Homo sapiens: one gene and its partners. The protein of the gene in region 2 interacts with the protein of the main gene of each other region in a biochemical or structural test. Each region holds a gene or a part of one and is shown on either strand. Other genes may lie near its edges. The genes, in order: SYT1, STX2 and SNAP23.

Region 1 (10,312 bases), about 52 Mb from region 2:
GTAGTCCCAGCTACTCAGGAGGCTGAGGCAGGAGAATGGTGTGAACCCGGGAGGCAGAGCTTGCAGTGAGCCGAGATCGTGCCACTGCACTCCAGCCTGGGCGACAGAGCGAGACTCCATCTCAAAAAATAAAATAAAATAAAATAAAATAAAATAAAATAAAATAAAATAAAATAAAATAAAATAAAATAAAATAAAATAAAATAAAATTAAAAAATCTGTAAGACATAGCCCTTCTCCAAGTAGGAAAGTTTTAAACCTCTCCAGTTCATTTTGCTTCTCTCATCTTTTTGGGTAAAGAACTGATGAATGTAAAATAAATACAGTTACTAGTAATGCAGCATGTGCTAATGATTTCCAGTTTGATGAGAAATGAACAATAAATAAATGAAACACTAATGCTCATCTTTGATAACTAACATCCAAAGTCAGTAATGCTGTGAGAGCTCTAAGCAGTTGCAGAAATTCTGTGCTTTATTTAGGAATTGACAGTTCTAATAATGTCTTCACTTTCTAAAGTTTCCAGAGGGTTCCTCATGAAGGATGTACAAATATACTGTCATATTAAAAATAATTTTTTGATCAGCTTCATTATAGCCCTGGCTAGTTATTACATAATACATTCTAGAAAACTACATTATTGGTTTACAGGTTCAGGTTTGTAGTTATACCATTTTTAGTTAATTACATCTGATATTTGTGGTCATTTCTATCACTTCTATGAAAATTTGAGCATCAGGATTTGGTTAGGAGCAAAACCTCTTATTTATATATTCTAGGAAAGATCAAGGACAACTTATATTGGTCTTAATATATAACATATTTTCCAAAAATTTAATCTGGCTTTCTATATGCATCCAGTATTTTTTTCATCATATTGACCATTCATATTTTCCAGTGGAAATCTAGTGGTGTCTCATTCTGATTAGTCATAATTTTGAAGCTTTCAAGTTAGCTTTAATTATTAATACTATAAGTATCATTTTATAAAGTAGTATTTTTAAGAAAATAAATAATAACACTGAGAATTTTTTTACTAAAATATAGTGAGAGTACATTTACTGTTCCCTTTTCAGCAAACATCAAATCTAAAAAGTTATTTCATTCTGAGAAACTGATGAATTTTTAAAATATTACACATTGGTTTTTCCCAAATGTTCTCAGTTAATTTGATTTATAAAGTGATTCCTAAGAAGCAGGAAGTTAAAGTCTGAAAAACTTCATAAAGTTTGGATCAAATATATGTTTACCAAAACTAAAAGACAACCCTAAAATATTCTAATTAAGACGCTTTCATGGTACAGAGAAATGTGATATTTATCTCTTAGGCAGAAGTCAGAACAAGGTTGTAAAAAGTAACCTCATTCTTTATTAACAAAATATCCAAAAACTCTAAATTATAAATCATCTAGTTTCTAAAGAGTTTAAGCCATCTCTCTAGCATTTTTTCTGCTCAAAAGAAAATTGGTTATAAAAAGTGAGGATGAGGAAGTAGAATCTTACTTATTCGCATTACTACATAAAGGTAAATACCAAATACCTACTTAGCAAACAAAGAGACAGACTGTTTCCTTTACTAATCATGTCTTTATAATCCGATGCCTATTTTAGCTGTTTTTTGACCATCTGTCTGTGTTTTGTTTACCTACAATCTAGCACTCTTATTGCCACTGTTGTATCATGATTCCACAAAAAAAAAAAAAGATATTGAAGCATTAAAATAGAAACAACATAATCATTCAGGTTATTGGGCCATGTTAAAAGTTGAGCCACCTAGCCAAAATGCACTTAAGTACACGGTGGGTCACAATTAAAATGGTTATGCATTTTTTTTAAGAGGGGGAATTGCTTTTTTACTCTACTAGCTAAAAAGGCATGAACTCAGATTTTTCAGGCTGAGATGTAAAAACCTATGGTGTTACTGCATTTACAAAATAGCATATACCTTGAATAACAGTAAGAGTCTGCTTTGTTACCTATATGGATCTAAATCAGTCTGTTGACACAAAATCTCTAATGGCAGAGTATCTATGATAGTCTACTCACACCTCTTTTTTTCTTCGCAAAAATATTAACCATACCATAATACCTTAATATTCATAATGAGGCTTAAGAATGCATCAGTAAGAAAACAGACTTAAAGAAATGTAATAGTTCTGTGGTGTTTGGAAAAAATAAAAAACACAGTTACTCACCATTAAAAAACCTCACCTCTAATCTCCCTTGCTTTCTATGAAGCTGAAATTACATTTCTTTTACTCCGTGTCCTATATTTAAACACAGAATCTCATAGATAATAATCATTCTACTGTAAGTTAAAATAAATGTAGTCTGCACACCAGTGAAGGTCAAATATAATAGAAACTAGAAGATCTTATTTTTTATCTCAAAATGCTACCCAATTTCTAAGAAATTTCTACTCAGCTAGCCTGAGGCTTTGATAAAGAATAAAAGTTTCCCACTTTGTAATTACAAACTTGTGATTGCTTAACAATGCATTTTCACTTACAAATCATGCTCTGGAAAGAAAAACAATGCACAAGAGCTTTTAGCAACTGGAAAGTTATTTGATTACAACTCTTTTGCAAAAATGAACTCCATATTTAACTGCAATCAGCAACCTTTTAAAAGCCTCTTTTGTGCTTAAAACCAGGCTTCCCAGAGCCTGCATCAGTCATAATTGGGTTTCTGAAGTCTACATAGCTCAGTTCATTTGCCTTCTGTGTTCAGATTCATAAGAGAATCAGAGTTTTATTAAAAATAAATAGGAAGAGGGAGAAATCCCAATATGCAGCATTGTGAACAAATCGATCTTTTCCAAAATGTCCACTGATATTTATGTATGCTGTATTCTGTCATTTATTTCAGCTGCTGGTAGGGATCATTCAGGCTGCCGAACTGCCCGCCTTGGACATGGGGGGCACATCTGATCCTTACGTGAAAGTGTTTCTGCTACCTGATAAGAAGAAGAAATTTGAGACAAAAGTCCACCGAAAAACCCTTAATCCTGTCTTCAATGAGCAATTTACTTTCAAGGTATTTGTTAACATTTATTTATAACCTTTCCTTTGTTGTTTTACTTAAAAGACTGATCTCATCCTGACACATACATAGACATGCACATGAATGCTTGTTCAGGCACTCACAATAATTCCAGTCAGAATATGCAAAATTCTTATCTTCACTACAGTCAACATTCGATATTGCCTTTCAGCGTGTTCAGAGTAGGATTCGGTTCAGTCATTTCAGAATGGAATGGACTAGAACATGACTAGGATGTCATAGTCACATCTAAAAAGTGAGATCCCTCCCTGAAATAAAGCCAAAGGAATGAAATCATTATTTTTCTGAATTTCAAAGTTTGTGAAAATAAGTACATCTGTTACAATCCCAGGATTAAGTAAGCTGTGTCCCAATGCTTAAATGGTACAAATAGACATGACTCTTGTAACAAAATTGTGTGTGTAGAGGGCAATTTGAGCACTTCAAAGTCATTCTTCTTAACTAATCAATAAAAGGAATATGAACATATTTTTTATTGCATTTCTAGCCTTCTTCCTTTACTCTAGGTTCTGCCCTGATGTTCTTCATCTTGTTGAGGCACCTCAGTTGACAAACAACAGAGAGATTCCAGCCATATAATATCTCATCAGGAAAACATGTCCTGCAGGTCTCCAGGATCTTCGTGGATCTTGGCTTGAAATCATTCATTAAAAACAATTCTTTTGGTGGATATCTTTAACGTGCGAAAAAAACTTTTTAATGCATTACTTAGAACAATATGTTTCTGAAAAATGAAATATCTGTGAATATGCCAGCAGGCTAATTCAAAATCACCACGTCCATCAGCCAGGCTTAGCATATGCCTTGTGTTGGCAAACATTCTGGGATGAAATAAATTGAAAATGAGGGCATGAGTCATTTTCTCAAACCTTGTTTTCAATTATGTAAAGGGGAAGTGTCTTTCTATTCACTCTAAAATTTCTGAGTTTTCAAGACAAAGGTCCCTCATGTATTGTCAGTAATCTTATTTAAAATCTGGTTTTTCTGTACCTAAGCAGTGAATTTAAAGTAGCAGTAAAGACATTCTGGAAATACTCAGTTCATGAAGAGTATCTGCTCATGAAGCTTAATCACTATAGTCAACATACTACGAAACGTAAAATGGAAATAAAATTTTAAAAATATTGTAATAGTAATCACAGTTGTTTTATTCATCTATTTATTAACCTTAACTTAGGTCAGCAGTTTCTGACCAAAACTTAGTAAGGAAATTCTTAAATTATATGAGCTAATGTATTGGGGCTTTGTTTTGTATTGCATTACCTACATTATTATTTCTTTAAAAAATGCTAATAATTTTATTAGTAATTTCTATAAAACCAAGTATAATTATTGAAATTTTTGAATTCTCTATACATTTTTATCAAGTTTCATTTTATTTCAGAAAGGTTGATCAAACTATACATAAATCCAAAGTATAATATATTCTGCTATATTAAAAAATACTTCAATTTTTCTAGAGAACTGGTTAGACATTGTAGATTACTCATCTTGAAATGCCAAGAGGCAATATGATACAGGAATGGAAGTATAAAAGACTTTAAAGAAGCCTGGCTTTACAATGGATTTAAATCACTTAACAGGAACTCAACATGCCCCAAATTAATTCATCTTCTTTTCCCCCAAAACAGTTATCTGAAGGAGCTACTAATCATTCAAACAATAAATATTTTTAAGTGCTTCTTCTGTGCTAGGTGTTTTACATATATTCATTCATCCCTAAAATAGCCCCATGAAGCAGCCATTATTACAGTATTATCACAATTTAATAGATGAATAAACTTATGTTTAATCACGTGCCCCAGGCCCTTTAGTTGGAAAGTCCAAATCTGGTACAAGGTCTGTCTGACCCCAAGTCCAGGTTTTTGACTGTTGCTCTTTGAGTACAATCACTAGAAAGTCTAGAGAGATTTTAGATATACAATAACATTTTCAAGGGTTTATCCTTACTCTAAAAAATTTTGTTTCTTTCTTTGAGAGTCAGCTCTTTGGAAGGGTTTATTTTCCATTCCTTCTAAAATGGAAAAAGGATGATGCTTACTTTTTAATCATATCATTTTAATAAAATAATCAGGTTCCAAACAGATGGTAAATAAATGACAGAAAAGAAAAACTCTTTGGAAAACTAAAATTTCTTGTATGTAGATGGCCCAATATTCTTCCTTTTCTTCCCTCCTTAATATACAGAGTTAATTGAGAAATGTTTGCTGAAGCATAAGACAACCATTTACACTGATAAAATAATAGGAAGTGTATGAAAATTGATCAAACCTTTAAGACAAGTCTAAACAATTTCTTAATTAGGTATTTCTACCCAGTTACTGAAGTGTAGCTTACTTGGATTGCACTGCTTTCACTGAATATTAAAAATGTCACTAATAAACATCCCAACCCATAGCATCTGTCCCAGATATATTTGAACAGCTGGAGAATTCATCAGTTCTTGGCCTTTTGCCACCACTCATCCTAAGGCATGTCATACCCAAGAATGAACTTCAAAACCCATATTATAATGCACCTCTTATATTCAAAACATCAATTTCCTAGTCAGTTCTTGTCAATCAGCAAATTATTTTAGGGAGTAGGTGAGGCACTTGTGAATATCATTTCAATCCTTTCAGACTCCTAGCATAGCCTTTAATAAATCATTGCTCCATTGAACTGTGGCATTTAAATGCCTTGAAAGAGTTAATGGAGCATTTGAAATAAGTTATTTGCCCCTCAGTAAGTTACACCCTGACAATACAACTTAAAACAACAATAACAACAAAATATTCTACAAGAAAAACTTACTTATAGTCAAATGCAATTGGCTTGTTTATTGTTTTATTAATCTTAAGGCTTTATAGTATAACTAACAGCAGGATCCATTATTAATAATGCTAACAGCTTCTAGAACTTTGAGATAAGGCAATAAATCACTAAAATTTCCCATTTTCTCTCAAGTAATTTTAGCCTCAAGCAGTTTGTCAAAAGTCTGAATTTAAAAAATAACCAAAAACAAAATTATCTCCCTGTTCTGTTTATGCAACGTAAATATTAAATTAAGCACCATGAACAAGTAACATGTTTTAAGCATTTTTGTGACTGGATATTTTATCCTCATGTCTTTTAATTTAGGTACCATACTCGGAATTGGGTGGCAAAACCCTAGTGATGGCTGTATATGATTTTGATCGTTTCTCTAAGCATGACATCATTGGAGAATTTAAAGTCCCTATGAACACAGTGGATTTTGGCCATGTAACTGAGGAATGGCGTGACCTGCAAAGTGCTGAGAAGGAAGAGGTAAGGGAATTACTAGCATTTCTAACATCACAAGCTGTACTCGCCAGTTGCTGCTCATATAATAACTTATTGAGAAATACTCTTTACAAAGGGGGATGTGGGCCTCTAGTTGTTGACAGCTGATAAAATAGGGTCAAGGGCACTGCACCACCTCGTTAAAAAGTGTACAGGTCTTCTGGGTGTTATCTGAAAGAAGAGAGACATTTGTGTACTGGATCTAGAAACAGCAACCCTGGACACAAACAAACACACATGCCCACAGGAACTCTTTCTAAAAGCTTACAAAAGGCCACACACACTCATAAACTACTGCTTTAAAATGACAACGAAAAATTATTTTATTTCTCATTTTTCCACAATCATTTTGTGTTTTCTGCATAGGTTATGTAGCTATTACACAGAAATAAAATGGTACTTTTTCCTTGATTGTTTCTGCATATCACAGACAGTTCATTGTTTCTCCTAAAGATACGAGAGCATGATTGGTCAAACATCAAATATAATTCACAAAGCCTGATATTAAATCCATTTTTTAAATGACTCACATTTTTATGCTACTCCTCACATTGTTTATTCCCAGTTTTAATAGTTTAGCCCAGTATTTTTCCATGACTTGAAAAGGGAAGTTCAATATGTTTAGTGCATTTAAGCTTCATAATAATCAATTGTATCTGATTATGCGATGCCTGCCTGGCACCAGCATTTTTCTCTGCAAACATTTCAGTAGACCAATACTAGAAAAGCAAACAACCCTTAGCTTCTCCAAATTCCTAAAACAACTCCTTTCGCAGTCACTCTTTAGTTCCTGACGTAAGGCTGTAATTACGCAAGAGATTGCTGACAGCTCAGTCATTTAGGATCTCCAGGTCCCTAGGATTCCCTGGCCTCTTGGGGTCACCAGGGAGATCAGAGAGAACGTCAGGCCTTCAGAGAAACTCAATCAAGTCCATCACCTGGGAATCCTCTCAGCCTAAGGTTTTCTGTGACCAATCTGAGGCTATGAACTTTATACCCCCTATATGATGAAATGAGGTTTTAGAACAGGCCTATTAATTCCCATGCTGAAATTGAACTTTTCACTCTAACATTGCTGTTTGCTATTTGATTTTACAAAATGAGTCAAAAATACTTAAGTTAAACTCTGCTCTTTTTTTTGGAAAAAAGTATGTATACTTATACTTTCCAAAAAAGAGAGCAGAGCTTAAGTATTTTTGTATATAATATTCATGTATACTTATTATATATATATATATATATATATATATATATATATTTACTGTCTCAATATCTAAGAATGTTGACTAACCTTTCTTAGACATTGACACAGATTTAGCCCTACTGTGGATATTCAAGAATACCCAGGAAAAATACCGAGTTTTAAAATTATATGATTTTATGGATAGTTCTTTCCTATAAGTGAACTAATAGTAATGTTACAGACATCTTCATGAAAAAAAAAATTCGATCATTCAGTTACAATGTTTATAATTATTTAACAAAGTAGTGGGATGTTTCATTGACTTTTTTGTTGAAGTGTTTGACTTTGTGTAAATTTTTTGGGTGATAAAGTAGGACCATAAGAAATGTTTATTAACTGATTGGTTTTATTAATTGACTGGTGTTTGGTTGGCTTGTTGGTTGAATATGAGAACATGAACCACTGGTACTTCACAATGCCCACTTGTGCAGGGTGCATGGTTCACACTTGTTACTTTCACCTGGATAATTATCAGGTGGTAATGACATCCAAGATCACACCCAGTGGGTTTCTGAAAAATTGTGCAATGTTTTTTTCTGAGCTAAGGGAATGTGGACCATTGAGCAAGTTTCCTCTTTCAGAAATCTTTGAGTACGAGCAGAGTTTGAAACTTAACACCAGGCTGACGGGTTTCACTCTAGAATCTAGGGGTTTAGGTAAACTGCCCATTCAGAATTTTAACCTAGAAAGTGGCCTAACATGATTTACCCCTTATCTTACTTACCGATGAAATAGAATAGAACATGAAGTACCCAGCATAGAGTCTGGCATATGGTAAATGTTCACTAAGTGAGAGGTCTCTCATACCTTTTTCTTGGTTAATTTTGTGTGTGTGTTCTCTTTCCCCATTTTGTGTGTTCATCTCCTCATTTGTTGTGTCTCTTCCCTCTATTTTTATCTACTTCGCTATCCTTTTTCTCACCATTGCACTTACTGAGTATCTGTAGGAGTTATTAATGGGAAATATTAATTTTATCATTACACTCGTAAAACTCTAGAGACTTTCCTCTTTGATTTCTACTCAGGAATAGAAATTTTTGGTTTTCAGTTAGACTATTTCTCTTTATCAAGGTATAGGTTATAAAAAACTGTATAAGACAGATGTCTAGCTTACAAAGTATCTCTGGATGACTAGACCCAGTTAGAAACTTTTTCATTATAAAGGAAGTAAGATTCCACTTGCATTTTATATCTGAAGAATTACATATTCTCAATGATATCTGCTCTAACTTTTCATGCCACTGTCCATTAATTGTAGAAAATTATAATTGTGTGAATAAATTGAAGTCTTAGATTGACTTTAGTTTTATGATTTTAAAGAAATTGTTTTTCCACTTTACATGAGCAATTTTGTTCATGATTTTAGTTTTGCTTTCATCTAGCAGTGTTAAGCATTATTTTTAATGTCATAATGAGATGAAAGATATCAAAGAAAGTGAGAAAAAGGAGTTCAAGGAACAGCTTTGGAATCTAGAACAAGTACTGCTAATCATAGTAAGCTGTTCTGCCGGAGACTTGGATTTAAAGAGGTTAAATCAAACCCACTGACAGCCAACTCTGTGATGTTAATTAAATGGAGTAAGGTTTTATTGCCAGAAAGTTGACAACTATAAGTCATAAGATGATGAAGTAATTGTGTAACTTAAAGGATTATGTACTATTTTAGCGACCAAATAATGTGCAAGCAATTTAGAAAGAAATGGGAAGGAACATGGATAGTGTAAGAGCCTCATTTGGAAGTGACTAGGCCCATGTTTAAAAGGAAGTGATGTGGAAGAGATAAGGTGTACCAGGAAGAGCCACAACAAAAGCACATTGTTCCCACTATTCGATTCTATCCCCAGGTGGAAACATCACTGGTGAGGTTTCCATTTGGCTTGATCGTGTTCCGCAAATTTACACAATCAAAGCCACCTCACTGGTTTCCGTTCACTTGCCGGTTTGTTTTTTCAGTGATGCACGGTCGACTACTTTCTTCCTCCACTTCCCCACCTTCTAATAGATGAAGGTGGAATTTGACCTTGGAGACAGGTCAACATTTCTCTTGTTTTTGTTTCTTTAAAACAGAAATATGTATCCTCTGAGTTCCTAGAGATGGTTATATATAAAACTGTTGTTTCTTAATTTTTTTATTTCTCAGTATATGGCTTCAAAATCATCCTTGGTAATCAGTATATAATTCTTCAGTGTGCAAAAGGCTACCAATATGTATAGCCCCAAGCTGAATCTTTGAGATTTTCTTCTCTTTAATCTTTCAAAAAATAAGTATTTATTGTATACACAAGTCAAACCTGAAACCAATCTTTATCTTTTTAGAATAATCTATTTAATATTTTGACTTAATTATTTCAAACATTACAAGCAACAGCTATGACTCCATTTTTCCCTTCTTATAAATTTCACTTATGTGCAGTTTTAAAATTGTCTCAGTTCTGCACCCCAGGATCAGGTATATCATCAAAGTATTTAAACTCTTTTTATTTTAACATTTTGTTCCTATTTATAAAGTTTATTTTTATCTCCATGCCTTCTACTGATATTTGTTATCTCTAAAAACAGCATAAGGAATAGATAGCACCAGAAAAAAAAACTAAGCCTTTTTTTTTAACATTCCGCCCTGATATGCTGCAAGCTCTCATGACTTGAGCAGTACTGTTTTATTGTTTTGTTTCCATTAGAGAATAAGTCTATCACCTCGGCTTT
Region 2 (10,312 bases):
GTTTCCATTTTTTTGTATGTGTGTTTTCCATGTATTTGTATATATGTGTGTATATATATCTGTGTGTATCTGTGTATATATGTGTGTATGTATATATATCTGTGTGTATCTACATATACATGTTTCCTCTTGATGGGGTTGGGCGCAGTGGCTCGCACCTGTAATGCCAGCACTTTGGGATGCCAAGGCAGGCGGATCAGTTGAGCTCATGAGTTCGAGACCAGCCTGGGCAACATGGCAAAATCCCGTCTGTACAAAACATACAAAAATTAGCTGGATGTGGTGGCACACGCCTGTAATTCCAGCTACTCGGGAGGCTGCGGTGGGAGGACTGCTTGAGCCTGGGAGGCAGAGGTTGCAGTGAGACGAGATTGTGCCCCTGCACTGCAGCCCGGGTGATAGAGCCAGACCTTGTCTCAGAAAATAATTTCCTATTGAGGGATTGTCTTTTTAGTAGATTGTTTTAGAAGGTCACTTGTTCATTAGCTTTAGTTTTATAAAGATACTTCAAAGATAAGAAATAAAAGGAATTTGAAGTCAGGCTTGGAACATTTTCATTTTTAAATTTGGAAGGTAATTATTTCCTATTTGTTCCTAGCTATTGAACAAAGTTTTGATCAGGATGAGAGTGGGAACCGGACTTCAGTGGATCTTCGGATACGAAGAACCCAGGTTTGCTATCAGCCTCGTTTAGATTAAAGTAATGTCGCAGAATAAGTGTTTTTACTTTCTTCTTGCAGACTCTGAATAATTTCATCTTTACTGTCATGCTTATCCTCATAGTATTTCTGCACAAAAATAATATAGTATTGTAAAACAAAAGTATCTGAGACAGAGGTTTATTTTGCCAAAGTTGAGGACACACTTGGAGAAAAGAAATACAAATTAGAGTAGGATCTGTGGTTTGTGCCTTTCCTGAAGAGGGTTTTGAGGACTTCAGTATTTAAAGGGGAAAGAGCGGGCAGGAGAGGAAGGAGGAAAGGGGAAAAAAAAGAGAAAAAGTGGGGGTAGGCAGCGGGGTGGCCACACTGCTGTGAGGCTTTGCTCAGGGCTCACTGCGTTCACATTTCACATGTGGGAAGAGAGGAGTGGGGGTCGATTCTGCACTCCTCCCGTGCCCAGATCCGCCTCTTACGTGGGCCAGTGTGAGCCTGAGGTGAGGGAGGAGCTATACATGCATTTCTCAGGGTGGGCCGAGGGTGACTTCTAGTCTTGTCTTTGTCCTGTACCTGTGAAGGTAAGCGGCTAATGTACATTGTCAGGGTGAGATTCTGCAGAACTCTGTTTTAGAGTTAGTTTTTGGTGGGGGGGATATGGATTCTGAAAGATTCTGGGACCTACGAGGAATTTCCTTGTGAGCACTTTGTGCAGGAGGCTGCTGGGGCGATGTGCGGCCTTCTGTCACTGCAGCCATCTGTTTGAGAAGAGGAGGGAGGGCAGTGTTTTGCATGACTCAGTTCCCAAGCTTAACTGTCCCTTTGGGATAGTGAGTGTGAGGTCCTGCGATTTTATTTTCCTTTCACAGTATTTATAGAAATCTCTTTATTGTGAAGAAAAATCTATTCGGTCCATCAACAGAGTTCTATTCCAAAGAGTAGGGAATTATCCAAATGATTTTAGTGTTTGTGGTAAGGCCGCCACGTTTTAGTGGTTTGTGGTACTGCCCAGAGGAAGACAGAGCCCTGAGGCCTCGAGGGCACGAGGCGATGAAGCACGCGGGCTCTGGGGTCCGCCTGCCTGGGTCCCCTCATGGGCACAAGGCGATGAAGCACGCAGGCTCTGGGGTCCGCCTGCCTGGGTCCCCTCATGGGCACAAGGCGATGAAGCACGCGGGCTCTGGGGTCCGCTTGCCTGGGTCCCCTCATGGGCACAAGGCGATGAAGCACGCGGGCTCTGGGGTCCACCTGCCTGGGTCCCAGTGCTGATCTGTGTTTATCAGAAAAGCCTGTGACCTTGGGCTAATGACCTCAAAGTCATGGTTTTCTTTAAGTAGGGTTGTGACCGGCATAGTAGGGGTCTTGTAAAAATTAGGTAAGATCATGCATGCAAAGTTCTTAGCACAGATGCTGCCATGGGGACTTTGCCATTGTCATTTTCCATTTGCAGGAGCAGAATAACATGTAGTTTGAGTTTCCAAAATGCATGTCTTGCATGTCACTTTCAGTAGAAGGCATGGCCCTCAGATACGAATGTAGTTTTCCTGTGTTGTTAGCATTCGGTGCTGTCTCGGAAGTTTGTGGAAGCCATGGCGGAGTACAATGAGGCACAGACTCTGTTTCGGGAGCGGAGCAAAGGCCGCATCCAGCGCCAGCTGGAGATAAGTGAGTAATGGAGACTCCGTCTTTGTTAAAATCATGTTTTTCTCCCTTAAGGTCTCACTTCAAATGACTTTAACTTCAGAAAAGGAAATCCATGTCTATTTTCACCAATAGTGTAAAACCCAAAGACCACTCGTAGCTTCCTATGCCGTGAGTCAGGCAAACCTGTTCTTCCTGTCTTCAGGAAGTCCTAAGCGGTGGGGTTTACCTTGCTCATTGCTGTTGCTTTTAGAGTTTCAGGGAGATTGGGAGAGTGCTCAGTCATTTCCTCTTTGAGTGTTTCTGTGTCCTCAGTCCCGCCCTGCCCTGGTTCGGGGGCATCTTCATGGCTCCTCACATCTCTCCTTGTCTGTGAGCAGAGGCAGCGGCCCTATTGCCCCAGACTCTTTTCAGGGGTGTCTATGGGGACAGTTGGCTGTGGCAGTGGAGATGGCGCCTTCTTCGGGGACAGACGGGTCTGTTTCAGGGATAAAGGTTGGTCAGGTTTGTAGACTCCCCATTGTGAAAGATTGGGGTTCCCAAGCTCGGGTCCTTCAGCTGTGACACAAACCCACTGTGAGGACGTCCCACTGCAGCTGCTCTGCCTCTCCCCATGAGACTGGGGGCCGTGGACAGCTGCTCATGAGCCTCAGGTTGCCTGCTGTGCTGTGAGTAGGAAATCCCTTTGTCCCTGACCTGGGGCCTTGGACCTTCTGCCGGCCCCCACGGAGCCCTGGCAGGCCAGCGTGTCAGCTCGCAGGTCAGATGAAGCCTCAGGCCCATCCCGGCTCCCAACGCCGCACATCCCCCTCAGAGAATGTTGTCATATGCCCGCCAGGCCGCTTGACCTTGTCCCACAGCTCAGCGAGGCTCCTCATGTTTTAGATACTCTTTTCCAGTGTGTTTGGTTTTGGTCAGTTTCTCTTGCTTGTCTGATCTGCCTTTAACCTCCTCTGGTGTATGTTTCATCGGAGACACTGGTTTCTGTTGCTAGTTCTGCTGGGTGTTTTACATGTCTGCTGTGTTGCTCCCCACTGTACAACTGGGACGCACTTGTAGTAACTTGAACCGTCTTTGTCTGCCAACTCCAGTGTCCTGTCTGCTCTGGTTGGTTGATTTCCTTCCTTTCTGTGGCTTGTGTTTTCCTGCTTCTTTGCGAGCCTGGTAAGTTTCGAGTGTGTGCCAGACATTGTGAACGTTACTTTGTTGGGTGCTGAGTATTTCTGTATTTTGAGTATTTTTGTAAATCTCCTTGGGCTTTGTTTTAGAATGTAGTTAAATCACATGAGCATGGTTTAGCCTTTGGGATCTTGCATTTAGAGGGAGCAGAGCAGCTTTATTTGAGGGCCTGTCATTCCTCACTCCTGAGGTAAGACCCTTCTGAGCACCTGCTCTGATGGCCGTGAACCTCATGGCACCCTCGTCTGCCTGGCAGCGTGTTCCCTCTGGCATGCTGGTCAGCACTCCAGTGAGCATGCGGGGTCTGTGCAGCTCGCTCTCTGCATCTCTCTCATCTCTCATACTCCATCTTGCAAATCCAGTTGCCTTGGTCTCCCCTGAGCTCTGTGCCTTTGCCTTAGGACTTCCCCTGGGCTCCACCTGGGCCCTTTCTGCTCTGTGGCTGACACGAGAGTTCCGTCTGAGGGCAGCAGCAGGCTCACCTGGCTTGTTTCCATCTGTTGGGAATCAGTGTGTGGCCTGATGCTCAGTGTCTTGGAAATCGTTTTGTAGATTTTGGTGGGTTTGTGGTTATTTCAAGTGGCAGGGAAAATACGGTCCCTGTTGCTCCATCCTGGCAGAAATGCTCAATCATGATGTCGACTAGACTGCTTTTCTATGAAAAAGTTTTTACAAACCACTTTGACTTCAGGGATCTGTTAGTACTTTTTAAAGTGAAAGTCATCATTACAGGCAGCCGGTTGCACTGTGAGGATTTATGCTCTGGGACTCTGTGGTGAGCGCTTTTCTAGCACAGAGTTCCCCAGCCTGGGCTTGAAGGCCCCGCACCATCTCTCCTGCAGGTCCATCCTGTCTTCACTCCCCATGTGAATCCGGTGGCGTGATCAGATCGCCTAAGTCTCTTCTCTCTTTCCCACATTATTCTATCTCAGCCCACAGAATTCATTTCCAGTTTCTTCTCTTGCAATCATACTCTATCGAATGCAGTACTGTTTGTGAAAGTGTCTTATAAGCAATGAAGTATCATATACGTGTTGGGAGTTTTTTTTAGTAATTCCTTTAAGTCTGTTAAATTCTAAACCCTCCATGTGGCTATTCCGAAGTGAGCAGGTCTATGCAAACTCACCCCCAAAGGCTGAGCGAGCTGAGACGCCAAAGAAAGAGGCTAACAAATCCAGTTTCTCGAAGGAAACATTGGCTAGGGACGTACGAACAGAAGCCCCCGAGAGACAGAGACGGTGGACCCCACAGCCGCCTGCCCTCAGAAAGTGTTCTTTATACAGCAGGCTTTCAGGGTAGAACGTGTGCAGCCGGCCCTGTCTTCTGACTTGCTTGACAACACTTGGGACCACTGGTCAGGCTGGATGAGCATCTTGATGAGAGGTTGCCTGTGCCGGAGGCATCGTCTTCAGACCTCATTGCAGAACAGCTTGGCATGCACGAGTCGAGCATCGGTCATCACGGTGGTTTTGCTTCAGGATGGCGTCACTCTGGCCACACAGCGGGCTGTCTTCATACAGTGGTCTTCTCCAAATCCTTGCACCTAAAACCATTTTGTCCCCTTTCTTTCTTCCTTCCGTCAGCCCTGTCATCAGGCAGGTTTCTTACCTTGTATCACAGGATATCTTTTCCTGTGCTGTATGCTTTGTTTCTTCAAATGGCAAGTGAGTTTCTTCTTGGACCAGGGCATGTTACATAGGTCCACAGTGCTTTCTCTGGAATGGTTGGGGCTGTATGTGTTTCAGAGTTCAGAATTTTTCAGATTTTAGGAAGATAGTACAATGTATAAGAGGTGTATTATGTAATCCCCAGGTGGGGTCTAGGACTGCACCCTGTAATCAGGCACATTCACACAGCTCTCCAGTGAAATGTGAGTATTCACAGTAAGGGGGAGGAGTTAAGATTATAAATAGCCATGACTCAGTTTAGGTCAGATTTTGCCGCTCATTGAATTTTGACATCGAGCTTAAGGAAAACCCAGTTTTCATAATGTTGTGGATTTCAGCATTCTGGATAAGGAATTACGAATGTATACTGCATTTCACATTCTGTAACCCCAGGCTGTTTCTTAGACTTAGCAGTTAGCCGGTGGGAAGACCTTTGTGAACGTGAGACATGAACTGTAACTTTTAGTTTGTTTTTTTTTTTTTTTTTTTTTTTGAGAGAGAGCCTCACGCTGTCACCCAGGCTGGAGTGCAGTGTTGTGATAACCACTTATTGTGGCCTTGAACTCCTGGATCCAAGGGATCCTCCCACCTCAGCCTCTCGAGTAGCTGGGACCACAGAAGCACACCACCATACCTGGCTAATTTTATTTTTTGTAGAGACGAGGTTTTCACTATGTTGCCCAAGCTGAAATTTCTAGTTTTGATGATTATATTTTACATTATTTAGAACAAGTTTCATGTTTTTAAAAAAGCAAAGCAAAACTCAGAGAATCTCCTTATTGAGCTATTTTGAATAGATTTTTAAGTTTTATTTTATTTTTTGTAGAGATAGGGTCTTGCTGTGTTGCCCAGGCTAGTCTCAAACTCCTAGCCTCAAGCAATCCTTCCACCTTGGTCTCCCAAAGCACTGGGATTATACATGTAAACCACCATGTGTGCTCTCAAATAGATTTTTAAATGATTGAGAATTACCTCCCAAAAAATAGTGTAAGTAAACAAATTTTGCAATTTACTAACTTTAAAACTTTTTTCATTAAATGACATCTCAACAACTTTATTGAGAAGTAAATCTCTTAATATGTGAATGATATTTGGAGCATACAATTAATTCAGTGGTTTTTGGTGTATTTCCACACACAATCAATTTAAAACACTTTTATCAACCCAAAAAGAAACTTCACACCCACCACCAGTCATTCCCCATTTCCTCTCCTAGCCCAAGACAACTGCATTCTACTTTTTACTCCTGTACATTTTCCCATTTTGGATGTTTCATATAAATGGAATTATACACTATGTGTTCTGTGACTGACTTCTTTCCTGTAACACAGTTTTTCCAAGGTTTCACCATGGGGTGGGCAGGGTGTGGTGGCTCACATGTATACTAATCCCAGCGTGTTGGTTGGGAAGCCAAGGTGGAAGGATCGCTTGAGGCCAGGAGTTCAAGACCAGCTTGACAACATAGCAAAACCCCATCTCTGTAAAAAAAAATAAAAATAAACCAGGCATGGGTGTGTGCCTATAATCACAGTCACTTGGGAGGCTGGAGCAGGAGGATTGCTTGAGCCTAGGAGGTCAAAGCGGCAGTGAGCTGAGATTGCACCACTACACTCCAGTCTGGGTGACAGAGTGAGACCGTATCTTTGTTAAAAAAATAAAAAGGGCTGGGTACGGTGGCTCACACCTGCAATCCGAGCACTTTGGGAGGCTGAGGTGGGCAGATCACTTGAGGTCAGGAGTTCGAGACCAGCCTGGCCAAAATGGTGAAACCCCACCTCTACTAAAAATACAAAAATTAGCCGGGCGTGGTGACGCACGCGTGTAGTCCCCACCACTCAGGGGTCAGAGGCATGAGAATTGCTTGAACCCGGGAGGAAGAGGTTGCAGTGAGCTGCGACGGTGCCCCTGCACTCCAGGCTGGGCGACAGAGTGAGACCCTGTCTCAAAAAACAAAGCGACAAAAACCAAAAGCGTCCTTTGTTTTTGTGGCTGAGTCGTATGTCAGTGTGCAGCTAGACCGCAGTTAGCTCCTTCAGGCATCGGGGGACGGACGTTTGCGTTGTTTCCACTTTTTGGCAATTATGAATAATGCTGCTTATTAGATGACATTTGAATTATGACATTTATTCATTTACTTTTGTCTTCTGTGGCACAAACTATGAAAAATAGTAATTAACAATTAGGTTTCCAAAACCTGTGTACATGTTTCTTCGAAGTCATTACACATTTAACTCAAAAGGAAAGCATTAACTTCCAAACATGGAAAGTGTTCAGGCATCTGACTCTCATTACGTGGACTTTATTGATCCTCATTTAATACATGCTACATTCAGCTCAACCCCCTTTTACATGAGGCGGAGTTAAACTCTTAGGGAAACCAGTGTGCCGAGACATTGTTTACCGATTTCCTTTCTGCAGTTGTTTCTCACTAATATTAAAATGAAATTTTATTGTTTATAACATTTACAAAGTTTCTCGGAGTATTTTTATTTCTTCTTGCTCCTCAATCTTAGGTTCACTTCTCATTGTCAATATCTGCTTAAGAAAAGGTTAAAAAAATTACTGAAAAATGCTAACAACTATGATTGTAGTTGCTAACTTATGGTTGCAAATGGCTTTGTTTTTAAATTGTGCTGCATTCTGAGTGGGGCTGTGGTTGCGGGTCTTTCAGCTGGGAGAACCACCACAGACGACGAGCTAGAAGAGATGCTGGAGAGCGGGAAGCCATCCATCTTCACTTCCGACGTGAGTGGGGGTGCGGCCCTGTGGCTCCATGTCCTCTTCTGTAGACAGAGCTTTTTAAAAACCCTTTAACTTCCAAACCCATCATAAGTTTATTAATATTATCTTTTATTTTTGTTTTTCCAAGATTATATCAGATTCACAAATTACTAGACAAGCTCTCAATGAAATCGAGTCACGTCACAAGGACATCATGAAGCTGGAGACCAGCATCCGAGAGTTGCATGAGATGTTCATGGACATGGCTATGTTTGTGGAGACTCAGGTAGTTACAGACTCTTGCATTCTCCAAGAGAGATATCAGTCATGTGTAAAATCTTACTGCATCCCACTCTGTCTAGTGGATGTATCTAGGAAAGCTGTTATTTTGGATCCACCAAATTCAGGTTAATTGCAGTGTTATATGTGATGCTGAAATGCTGGAAGCAGCTTTAACAGTTGAACTGTTAACAGGAAGGGACTGGTTCAGTTGATTAAATTATGGAGTGTTCATAGGTCAGCCTTTTAGGCAACCATAGGCAACCTAAACTTTGTTCATGGAGAATTCTTACTGAAATATGCAGATGTTTGTGCTAGAATTAAGAGAAAAGGGAGATACAAAGATCTTCTGTGTATGCCCGTACATATGTATGAGTACATAAACACAAACACATGGCACGAGCTTGGCTCCATAAAACAGTATCCACAGAAGGAAAGGCGTATATCAAACAGTGTAATGGCAGTGAGACTATGGGAATTTTAATCTTCTCTAAAAGTATTTATTTTCAGATTTTCTATAAGAAGCATATATTACAGTAATAACTAGGAGAAATGTCTGAAAGAATCAACCCCAAGTGGGGATACAATCTATGACACAGATGCAAGCTTGTGCCTGTTACACGGGGTTTCCCATCTGCCCAGTAACACAGATAGGGAGTGAAAGCAGGTGTGGAAAGGCCCTTCTGAGTGAACCGAAGAGTTAATGCAATTCTTAATAAATAGAAAACTCCTCTGGGAGGCTGAGGTGGGAGGATTGTTTATGCCCATGAGTTCAAGGCTGTGGTGAGCTATGATCATGCCACTACACTCCAGCCTGGGTGACAGAGTGAGACCCTGTCTCCAAAAAAAAAAAAAAAAAATACACACATATATATGTATGTATGTATATATTGAACTCTCCATGTAAAGTACGGGATGGATCACAGATCACATGCTCTGTGATGTGCATGGGTATGTTCACACTCGCTCTTTGTCTTTGAATAAGGTCTTCTCGTTATTTTTCAAATACCATGGAGATAAGACTCTGTTGCTGGTTAGGATTCAGCTGACCACCAGGTGAAGCGGAAGCATTTATATCAAACCATCCTAAGTAAATGGTTTCCTCACTTGTCCTGAGCCTGGTTTCGGATCTGTTTTGGCTGGAGTCATCCCCTAAGTAGGTTCACATCTGATGGGCTTATTTTCTGAGACTGCCTGGATTGTGTAAGGATAGGAATCCATCCACACACAGGATTGTTCCTGCCTGCTTCAGCAACCTTGTTAAGAAACACTGTATTTTGAAGAACTTTATAATGAGAATGTGTGTGAAAAACTCAGGCACCATGCCTATTTTTTTTTTTTTTTTTGAGACAGGGTCTTGCTCTGTTGCCCAGGTTGGAGTGCAGTGGTACAATCTTGGCTCACTGCAACCTCTGCCTCCTGGGCTCAAGCAGTTCTCCTACCTCAGCCTCCCGAGTAGCTGGGACCACAGGTTTGCACCACTACGCCCGGCTAATGTTTGTATGTATAAGCATTTGCTAGAGGAAACCAACAGCTACACAGAGGGCAGGGATGGGACGATCTTACTCCTTTTTGATTTTGGGGGCCCCGTTGCCATTCATTATATGGTAAGTGGAGTGTGGGGAGTCTGATTACCATTGGTTACTTATTTCCAGGAAGCATTCCAAAGGAAACCAGCTGGACAGAAAGAACGAGAGATGATTTCTGTAATTACTAAAGCTTTTGTAGTACCTTAGACTTCAATTGTAATTGCTCTATACCAAATGCATTGCATTAAGCTCCGTTAGAAAAATGGCTGCATCCCTGGCTTTGTTTCACTGTTTCCTTTTAGAAGTCTGTTGGTATTGCATTATATTGACTCATCTAATGCAAATGTGTGCATAGTCAGAGATTACTAGTAAGTTGAAGTTTGTGACTGAGTGAGTTAACTCTCCGTCATTCTTCAATGCTTTACGATTCACTGCTGCAGGTTGTGTCTGGACAGACAACCAGGTAATACGTTACCTCCCTCACACTTTGCTGAATTCACCTCTGTTTACATTTTGCTCATTAATGTAGTCAGCTGAGTGTCAGATGTGAGCTATGCTCAGTTTACTGATTTAAAGAAGTAGTTACAATTTTCTACTTTGTGGAAAAGATGTCATTCTTTGTATATTGTCTGTCTGTGCA
Region 3 (10,237 bases), on a different chromosome or scaffold from region 2:
AAGGTTGGGGACTGCTGAGGTCACTCTGATACTCAGTCAAGTTTGGAAGGTATTACCTTTAAAGCATCTAAGACCCTTTGGAAGGAAAGTAAATTAGTTTAAAAACATATTTATATTTGTGAACATTTTTTATTTTATTAACTTAGATAAGCAGCTATCTGACAATGCCTTAAAAACAGGTTCCAACTTGGTGGAGGAAACTCCAGGGTGATGGCCAGTAACAGGGTCTTGAGCAACCAAAAGGCATTACCTAGAGTGGACATGCTGAATGAGACGCACTGAACTGTCCCACCACCCCTTCATAAACACGCAGAACATACTATAACTGCAAGAAAAACAAGTAGTTTTTTTCCCCATCCCATTTGAAGGTAAACATGCCAACACAATGCAAAGCTGTAAAAAAATTCAAAGTCAGCTGGGCGCGGTAGCTCACTTCTGTAATCCCAGCACTTTGGGAGGCCGAGGCAGGCGGATCACGAGGTCAGGAGATCGAGACCATCCCTGGCTAACACGGTGAAACCCTGTCTCTACTAAAAATACAAAAAATTAGCCGGGCGTGGTGGCAGGCGCCTGTAGTCCCAGCTATTCGGGAGGCTGAGGCAGGAGAAGGGTGTGAACCCGGGAGGCGGAGCTTGCAGTGAGCTGAGATCGTGCCACTGCACTCCAGCCTGGGCGATACAGCGAGACTCCGTCTCAAAAAAAAAAAAAAAAATTCAAAGTCAGCTTTTTGTGTCTTTTCCCCTTGTTACAGAAAGAACATCTTCAAAGATCCAGTCTTCTTTTTTTTTTTTTTTTTTTTTTTTTTTTTTGAGACGGAGTCTCACTCTGTCACCAAGGCTGCAGTGCAGTGGCACGATCTGGGCTCACTGCAACCTCTGCCTCCCAGGTTCAAGTGATTCTTCTGCCTCTGCCTCCTGAGTTGCGGGGACTGCATTCGAGCGCCACCACACCCAGCTAAGTTTTGTATTTTTAGTAGAGACAGGGTTTCACCATGTTGGCCAGGCTGGTCTCGAACTCCTGACTTCGTGATCTGCCTGCCTCGGCCTCCCAAAGTGCTGGTATTACAGGTGTGAATCACCGCACCCGGCCAAGATCCAGTCATTTTAAAGACAGCAGAGTTTGATAACCAATCTGATTCTTTGTTTATAGACTATGTTTCAATTAAAAATCATTCACATGATCATTTTTAAACAATTCATTTGCATTTTATGCCCTTATATCTAATTGTGGAAAGAAGAATTCTCATAAGTGTAAAGAATTTTTTCAAATATTGCCTCTTAATGTTGGGAAGGAGGTTGGAATGCATATATATTCCTTAATAGACCAGAACCCAAGGTCATGTCCCAGTCCACTCCTCTTTTTGTGCTGTCAGAAACATAATATCTCATTAGTTACTTTGGAATTTCAACCTTCTCTCTTGCACCTGTTCCACAATCCGAAATTCTAATAAAAGCCCCACTTCTGTTACTTCTGTTAATATTTGTGGTTATTAACTTTCTGATAAACTAATATATTGCTTTTGTTTTATTTACTAGCACTTACTCTGCTCTAGAATTTTGCCTGGGACCTTTCTTATTATTAACAAAGAATACATGTGAATATTTATTTTAAAAATATATATCCTACCTTGTTCCAAGAAAAATTTAACATGGCTTCTTAATAAATAAATGGGTTAATTAATAAAAACAGCATAGAAACATAATTATGATAACTTAAAGTGGTACCATGAAACACACTTGGAGAACTAGCTCTTCAGTGTTCATAAATTTGCCTTTGCAATGCCTCTCACAAAAAAAAATTAGTAGTATCCTTTCTGTAATGTTAATGATAAAGTCTAAGATTCAATTCTAGGTTTGCCGAAAATGAATCCTCACATGCCTATTAAGGAAGAAGTCACTTTTTTCATAAAATCTCTTCCCTACCTTTTTAATTTTTGCAATTTTAAAACTTCCTTATTAATGTAAAATGTAGAATAAATCAGAGATCAATATTTGAGCAACATACTATTTCGTTTTTGTTTATAGAAAAGTGAAAACTAAAATTGAATGAAAGCTTGACTTTAGCCAAATAATCAAGAAAAGTTTTGTGTCACTTTTCCGTAACAGCCATTTTTTTTTCCCTGTAATAGCCACTTTTTCTTTCTTTTTAAGACACTTAGACTTATGATTTTTTTTTTTTTTTGAGATGGAGTGTCTCGCTCTGTTGCCCAGGCTGGAGTGCAGTGGTGTGATCTTGGCTCCTTGCAACCTCCGCCTCCTGGGTTCAAGCGATTCTCCTGCCTCAGCCTCCCCAGTAGCTGGGATTATAGGCACGTGGTGCCACACCCAGCTAATTTTTGTATTTTTAGTAGAGATGGGGTTTCACCATGTTGCCCAGGCTGGTCTTGAACTCCTGACCTCAGGTGATCCACCCACCTTGGCCTCCCAAAGTGCTGGGATTACCGGTGTGAGCTACTGTGCCCGGCCTTGATCGTTTTTTTAAAGAGGAAACTCTTAAATGAAAAACTCCTACACTACAGGATTTATGAATGACCGCTTGTGTGGTCAAGGTACTTATTTGTCCGCTGATTGTCCAATTTGGAAATTATTCATGCCTTTCTTTCCTGATGGCTGGTTTGTTTGTAAGAAACCATTGTTTAAAATTTCATGGAAAATTCTAATAAAAACTGATCAGCTGGAACTACGCTGGTTCAAATTCAGTCTTCTTATTTTAAAATTTTATTTATTTATTTAAGATTAGGTCTCACTCTGTCACCCAGGCTGGAGTGCAGTGGCACTATCATGGCTCACTGCAGCCTCGACCTTCTGGGCTCAAGCAGTCCTCCCACCTCAGCCTCTCGAGTAGCTGGGACCACAGGCGTGTGCCACCACACCCAGCTAATGTTTGTATTTTTTTATAGAGATGGCATTTTGAGGCAGGGAGCAGTGGCTCACGAGCCTGTAGTCCCAGCACTTTGGGAGGCCGAGGTGGATGGATCACTTGAGGTCAGGAGTTTGAGAGATGGGTTTTTGCTGTGTTGCCCTGGCTGATCTTAAACTCCTGAGCTCAAGCGATCCACCCGCCTTGGCCTCCCAAAGTGCTGGGAGTACAGGCGTGAGCCACTGCACCCAGCATCAGCCTTCTTATTCTGTCATCCCTTGTCAACCTCTGAGATGCCTTCAAGGAACCTCTTAAGGTATCCCAGAACACCTTTTCTAAGGGACCTTTTTTTAAGTAATGTGCATTAACCTCTTTTCTAGATAGTGCTGGATACACTAGGAAGAGAAAAGCAAAACGATAGTGCCAGAGGCTAAGGGAACCTGAAAAATCAAATAGTTGCCTTTTGCTACTTGCTAACAGCCTAGTGAAGATTTGGTAGAAGTAGTATTTGGACCTTTTTAAAATTTTTTTTAGTGTCAATGGGTTTACATAATTCATCTATTTCCTATTCCATATTGCCATGGAGCATAGTGTAGATCATCTAGACTTAGCTGTATGCAGCTTTTCTACTAGAGTTATTAGTGTCATCCTCAAGGTAACAGGCACTAATAATTAGAACTCTCCGTCTTCTTTTTTTTGGTATCTCCCTACACTCCTGACTCTTATATAGAACAAAGAACTTTGAGTCTGGCAAGGCTTATAAGACAACATGGGGAGATGGTGGAGAAAACTCACCTTGCAATGTAGTATCTAAACAGCCAGGCCCGGTGACAAATGGTCAGCTTCAGCAACCAACAACGGGAGCAGCCAGTGGTGGATACATTAAACGGTATGCCAACTCCTCCTGATATTCCTGTACCTTTCTTAATGAATGGTTCACTTAGGAGATGAGTTTAGCAGTACATGACCCCTAATAAAACAAATAAAAATTGTATTTATTCCATTTTTAAAATGCATTTAAAAATCTGCCCACTGACAAAATGTGGGTTTTTTTTATTTGTTGTTTTGTTTTGAGACAGAGTCTTGCTGTGTTGCCCAGGCTGGAGTGCAGTGGCGTGATCTCAGCTCACTGCAACCTCTGCCTCCCAGGTTCAAGTTATTCTCCTGCCTCAGCCTTCCGAGTAGCTGGGACTACAGGTGTGCGCCACCACGCCCAGCTAATTTTTGTATTTTTAGTAGAGACAGGGTTTCACCATGTTGACCAGGCTGGTCTTGGACTCCTGACCTCAGGTGATCCACCTGCCTCGGCCTCCCAAAGTGCTGGGATTACAGGCATAAGCTACCACACCTGGCCAGACAAAATGTTGACTGTGGTGGTTGACCTTGGGTGATGGAATTAACTTTTCTTTATACTTTTCAGTACTTTCCAAATTATTGAACTAGACATATTTTACTTTTATATATAGAAAAAAATAGGTTTTAAAATGTGTCATCTAGAACAAGGGTCAGCTAGATTCCTGTAAGAAGATCTGTAACGAGCCAGAGAGTTAATATTTCAGACTTTTCAGGCCATACAGTCCCTTGCAATTACTCAACTCTGTTGTAGGGTTAAAGCAGGCATAAACAATATGTAAACAAATGAGCACAGCTGTGTTTGAATAACACTTGATTTACAAAATCATATGGTGGCCAGATTTGGTCCTTGGGCCGTAGTTTTCCAACCTCTCTCTTAGGGCAGTGCTTCTTTAGATAGACTTAACTGTGCATTAGAACCACTTGAGGGGCTTATTAAACCGTAGGTTTCTGGGATGCACTTACAGTTTCTGATTGAGTAGGTCTGGAATGGAGTGTGAGAATTAGCATTCTCATGTCTAACAGCTTCCCAGGTGATGCTGGGAATTAAGCTTTGAGAAACACTGTTTCAGAGTTTCTTTCTTTTCTTACATGGCTTTAAGATACTGTGCTCTCTTTGATGAGTCTCCCAGTTTTTATTATAGAATGTTTCCCAGGAATGGTAACCTATATTCTTTTGGATCTTATACTTGCTGAGAGTCATTTTGGTTACTTACTTTTGTGAAAAGTAAATCCAGACTTTTATTTAAATTCAACAAAACCTATGGAATTAACTGTCTTCTTGTGATAGCATAACTAATGATGCCAGAGAAGATGAAATGGAAGAGAACCTGACTCAAGTGGGCAGTATCCTGGGAAATCTAAAAGACATGGCCCTGAACATAGGCAATGAGATTGATGCTCAAAATCCACAAATAAAACGAATCACAGACAAGGTAAAAGCTTTTTATTGCCACAAGAAAATGAGACACCCAGTTCAGTGTTTCAGTAATAGACATCTGTGCTAGATACTGTGGGGGACACGGTAGAATAAGCTCCTGTCCTCATAGGTCTTAATTCTGATGAGGTGGTGGTTCTAACACATAAAACAAGAGCCAAGTCCTCCCTGTCATGGTAGTTGGTGCATTTTGAAACCAGAGTTTTGGAATATAGTAGTTTTACTTAAACCTTCACACATGAAGCTTAGTATCTACTTTAGCTTTTGAGCGTGTTTTTTTCTCTCCCAAATGAGTTTTATTTTGTTAACTAATTTTTTAATTGAGAATGGGGTCTTGCTCTGTCGCCTAGGGTAGTGTGGTGGTACAATCACAGCTCACTGCAGCCTGCCTCCTAGGCTAAAGCGTTCCTCCCACATCAGCCTATTTTGTTAACTAAAAATAAATTAAGTTCCTGAATCCTCATCTCATGAAAGAGTCCGTAGGTGAAAATCTGTTCTGCAGAATAGTTCTTATGGAGTGGACACACGAAATAGAGTCATGTGAGTGAAAGAAAGTTGTGATTCTTTTTTTTCCCCCTTAACTTTACATGATATAAATATAGTGAAAGCGAAATTGTTTTCAGTGTTTTGATGTGTCACATGTAAAGTCATACCTTGGCCAACCGTGGTAGCTCACACCTGTAATCTCAACACTTTGAGAGGCGGAGGCAGGAGGATTGCTTGAGCTCAGGAGTTTGAGACCAGAGCAAGACCTCGACTCTACTAAAAAAATTTAAAAATTGACCAGGCATGGTGGCATGTGCCTATTGTCCCAGTTACTCGGGAGGCTGAGGCAGAAGGATTGCTTGAGTGTAGGAGTTGAAGGCTGCAGTGAGCTGTGATTGCACCATTGCATTCCAGCCTGGGCAACAGAGTGAGACCCTTTCTCAAAAAGAAAGGAAAAAAAGAAAGTCATACCTCATTAAAATCTCAGTGAACTTTAGGGTGAGTTTTTAAGCTTGGCTCTCTGTTAAATCACTTTTGATGGATTTAATTGAAACAGTGGTTCACAAGATGCTTTAAATGCTGCAGTCTGGGTTTAGGCTATATTTACCTGTCATTTTAATTCAGATGTTGGTGAGGATGGTAATAGATTCGTTTCAAAGATCTTTGGAAAGGTTATTTCAGTCTCTCCAGGTTAGACTTAGGGTGTCTGAATCCAGATGAGATTCTATGATTCAGTTCAGAGGACTCACACAAGGTCCAGATCTTTAACAGAGAAGAGCACTCTTTCATATTTCATTGCATCAAAAAATGCCATTGATTACAGGATGCATCCCAGTTTCAGGCATGTTAAACTATGAAAAAATGCGTTATAGAATTTATGAAATATTGGCAAGGTCTTATATGTTACACCTTTGTCATGTTTATATACCAGGGGTTTTCCAAATGAATTTCATATTCTGTTACTTCTTGCCCAACATGAGTTTTGTAATGTAACTTCACGTGGTTTCTTGGATTTTCTTGGTGTGTCAGTTACTCCAAGTGTAAAAAGTTTAATTTTTATTAGAGTTACTTACCTTGTAAAGCTGATATCTTTCTTGTTTTTCAGGCTGACACCAACAGAGATCGTATTGATATTGCCAATGCCAGAGCAAAGAAACTCATTGACAGCTAAAGCTACTGCTGTTCTTCTTTATCATTTATTCACTTCCGTAGCTCCTCCTTGAAAGTTATTACCTTTTCAGAGTTTAAGTTTTCGGTTCCACGCTCTTCTAATTGGGAGATAATATGGAAGAAGGGCCAGAGCAGTTACAGCCCTCCTTCTTTTTTGTTTTCTGTTGAGGGCCGACTGCTGCTCTGCCTTCCTTCTAGTATTTTCTTTCTCAATTCATACGCTTAGATTGGTTTTCATATGTCATGTTTAGTGTTTTCATCCTCCTCATATACTTCAGCAGGTTCTTTTGCTTTCAAGATTTGGAAGCATTGCCAAAGACAGCCATGAAGAAGGAAGCTGTAGAGGTGTTTTTTGTTGTTGTTTATTTTTGCTTTTGTGGTTGAGGGAAGGACAAGAGATAAGAGGTTGTTACCTCAGTAAAAACCTTCAGGCCACAAAGCAAAAAGTTGCATAGCCACAACGAAGATCTAGTTGGATATAGTTTTTGATTTAAGTTGCAGTTATAGCCAATTTAGGCTAATGCTTGGTTTTGGAGCTTTTATACACAACGTTTTTGTTAGGCATCACAGTTTTGCAACCTCTGCTCCAAAGAGAAAAATAGAATGAGTTTTCTTTCTTTTTTTTTTTTTTGGAGTCAGAGTCTCGCTCTCTTGTCCAGGCTGGAGTGCAATAGCGCGATCTGGGCTCACTGCAACCTCCGCCTCCCTGGTTCAAGCAATTCTCCTGCCTTGCCTCCTGAGTAGCTGGGATTACAGGCGTGTGTCACCACGCTCGGCTAATTTTTGTATTTTTAGTAGAGACAGGGTTTCACCATGTCAAGCTGGTCTTGGACTCCTGACGTCGTGATCCACCCGCCTTGGCCTCCCAAAGTACTGGGATTACAGGCGTGAGCCACTGTGCCTGGCTGAGTTTTCTTAAAGTGAGCTTAATTTCTGAACTCTTAGTGATTCATATATGTACATAAATCTGTGATCCCATTTCTTATTGCACCATTCAGGAACACTTTATATAAATGAGTGGCTTTTTATTTCATATTATTAGTAGTATCATGGTTCCATTACAGGCCTATTAACATCATACATTGTCATTAGTCTTTGAAGAAAAAATATGTAAATATATATGTGTAACATGAGAATTTCTCTCTAAAGCAGGGCTTAAAATTTTTTGGAAAAGTTTGACAAAGCATACCACATGAATTCAGATTTACCTCAATGCTAAGAATTATGTTTAGTTAGGAAAAAGGAAAGTCATTTTGACCTCAGGTAGAAAAATAGATTGCTTTGAGTTTTATGTAGCTTTAGACTTTAAAAAGTTAGAATTTATTCTGTAACTAAAAATTATTTGAAAAAATTATGCCTCTGGTTTAATTATTGGTGATTACACACTCTTTCTCTTACCCTTGTGTATTGAACTATGTCCATAATCAAGTTGATGTGGATCCTGAAAAGTGTTATGAACATCTGATTGGTATTTGTCACATTTATTTTAAAATTAGCATCTGAACACTTCAAAGCTGTCAGTGTGTATTGGTTTCACCAATAACCACTGCTTGATCCTTACAATTAAATTTTTTAACTAACTAATGGTATTGTTCTTTCAAATAGGTAACATGTTTCTATGACTGTTATTTGGGGGAAAATAGTTTCATCAGCTCTCATTTAACAAATTAATAAAGCAAAGATCCATACATCAAGAAACACTACAGCAGGAAGCTGCCTTTAGCATCTTTCCAGTATTTATTGAAAATATTGATGGGACTTAAACTTACCTTGCTAAAAATTTATTGTGAGGTTCATTTTAATCATTACTAGTCTTACTCACTTGAGCTTAAATACACTAGTGACTGGAAGGGTAATGGTTCTGTGTGAGAACTACAACTCACTGGAGAAGATACAGTTAATGTGGGAGCTTTCAAAGGCTAAAGAGGAAAATATTTAAATAAAGTGAGATGCAACTACACCCTCTGTAATAGAAATGCTCCATGTCAAAATGAGTGGTTTGGCAGGGATGGTAAATATGTAAAGTAAGGTGTAAAACGGAGGATTGTGCTTTACCTAAATGCCTTTCCTAAAACCATTTACCATAAAAAAAAATTTTAGCACTGTTCTGGATAAAGGAAATAGTTCTGAGAATACCAGCATGCTACACTCACAGTATGATTGGTTAGAAGCATGGGCTGAGGCATTATCTGAATTTTCACTCTAGCTGAAGTGACTGTAAGATCATTTCTGTGCCTTAATTTGTCTGTAAATGCAGATTAATACAAGCATACCTCAGATACTGAGGGTTCAGTTCTAGACCACTACCATAAAGCTAGTATTGCAATGAAGTGAGGCACATGAATTTTGGTTTCCCAGTGCATATAAAAGTTCTGTTTACACTATTCTGTAGTCTATTAAATGTGCAATAGCATTATGTCTTTAAAAAGCAATGTATATACCTTAATTTAAAATACTTTACCATGGGCCAGGCGCAGTGGCTCACGCCTGTAATCCTAGCACTTTGGGAGGCCAAGGCAGATGGATCACTTGAGGTCAGGAGTTTGAGACCAGCCTGGCCAACATGGTGAAACCACATCTGTACTAAACATACAGTTAGCTGGGTGTGGTGGCATGTGCCTGTAATTCCTCTACTGAAGTCTCTTTTTTGTTTGTTTTGTTTTGTTTTTTTGAGAAGGAGTCTTGCTCTGTCATCCAGGCTGGAGTGCAGTGGCGTGATCTGGGCTCACTGCAACCTCCACCTCTCGGGTTCAAGCGATTCTCCTGCCTCAGCCTCCTGAGTAGCTGGGATTACAGGCAGGCACCACCGTGCCCAGCTAATTTTTTTATCTTTAGTAGAGACAGGGTTTCACCACGTTGGTCAGGCTGGTCTCGAACTCCTGACCTTGTGATCTACCCGCCTCTGCCTCCGAAAGTGCTGGGGTTACAGGCGTGAGCCACCACACCCGGCCTCCTCCACTGAAGTCTTCAAACGCCCAGTCATCCATGAGGGTTGGAATCAACTTCTTCCAAACCCGTGTTAATGTTGGTATCTTGACCTCCTTTCATGAATCATGAATGTCCTTAACGGTATCCTTTCCAGAGGGTTTTCAGTTTACTTTGCCCATATCCATGAGAGGAATCACTATGGCAGCTATACCTTTATGACATTTATTTCTTAAGCAATAAGACTTGAAAGCTGAAATGACTCTTTGATCCAAGGGCTGTAGAATGGATATATTAGCAAGCATGAAAACAACACAACATTAATCTTGTACATCTTCATCAGAGCTCTTGGGTGACCATATACTCTGATGCTCACTATCAATAAGCAGTAAGATTTTGAAAAGAATACTTTTTTTTCTGAGCAGTACTTCTCAACAGTGGGTTTAAAATATTCAGTAAATCATGCTGTAAACAGATGTGTTATCATCCAGGTTTCATTGTTCCATT

Evidence for each region.
Region 1: the proteins of STX2 (region 2) and SYT1 form a complex in vitro, tested with the Homo sapiens proteins (one study listed by BioGRID).
Region 3: the proteins of STX2 (region 2) and SNAP23 form a complex in vitro, tested with the Homo sapiens proteins (2 studies listed by BioGRID).

Annotation. Positions count from the first base shown.
Region 1 is NC_000012.12:79,293,201-79,303,512, forward strand, and holds part of SYT1 (synaptotagmin-1), read left to right. Parts: intron 1-2,868; coding exon 2,869-3,036; intron 3,037-6,183; coding exon 6,184-6,351; intron 6,352-10,312. UniProt on the Homo sapiens protein: Calcium sensor that participates in triggering neurotransmitter release at the synapse. May have a regulatory role in the membrane interactions during trafficking of synaptic vesicles at the active zone of the synapse.
Region 2 is NC_000012.12:130,798,991-130,809,302, reverse strand, and holds part of STX2 (syntaxin-2), read left to right. Parts: intron 1-598; coding exon 599-672; intron 673-2,212; coding exon 2,213-2,321; intron 2,322-4,759; coding exon of another isoform or gene 4,760-4,803; exon of another isoform or gene 4,804-5,210; coding exon of another isoform or gene 5,211-5,346; exon of another isoform or gene 5,347-5,650; intron 5,651-7,814; coding exon 7,815-7,888; intron 7,889-8,012; coding exon 8,013-8,150; intron 8,151-10,112; exon of another isoform or gene 10,113-10,135; intron 10,136-10,312.
Region 3 is NC_000015.10:42,524,673-42,534,909, forward strand, and holds the end of SNAP23 (synaptosomal-associated protein 23), read left to right. Parts: intron 1-3,589; coding exon 3,590-3,748; exon of another isoform or gene 3,749-3,799; coding exon of another isoform or gene 3,800-3,829; intron 3,830-5,002; coding exon 5,003-5,147; intron 5,148-6,740; coding exon 6,741-6,806; 3' UTR 6,807-8,386; downstream 8,387-10,237. UniProt on the Homo sapiens protein: Essential component of the high affinity receptor for the general membrane fusion machinery and an important regulator of transport vesicle docking and fusion.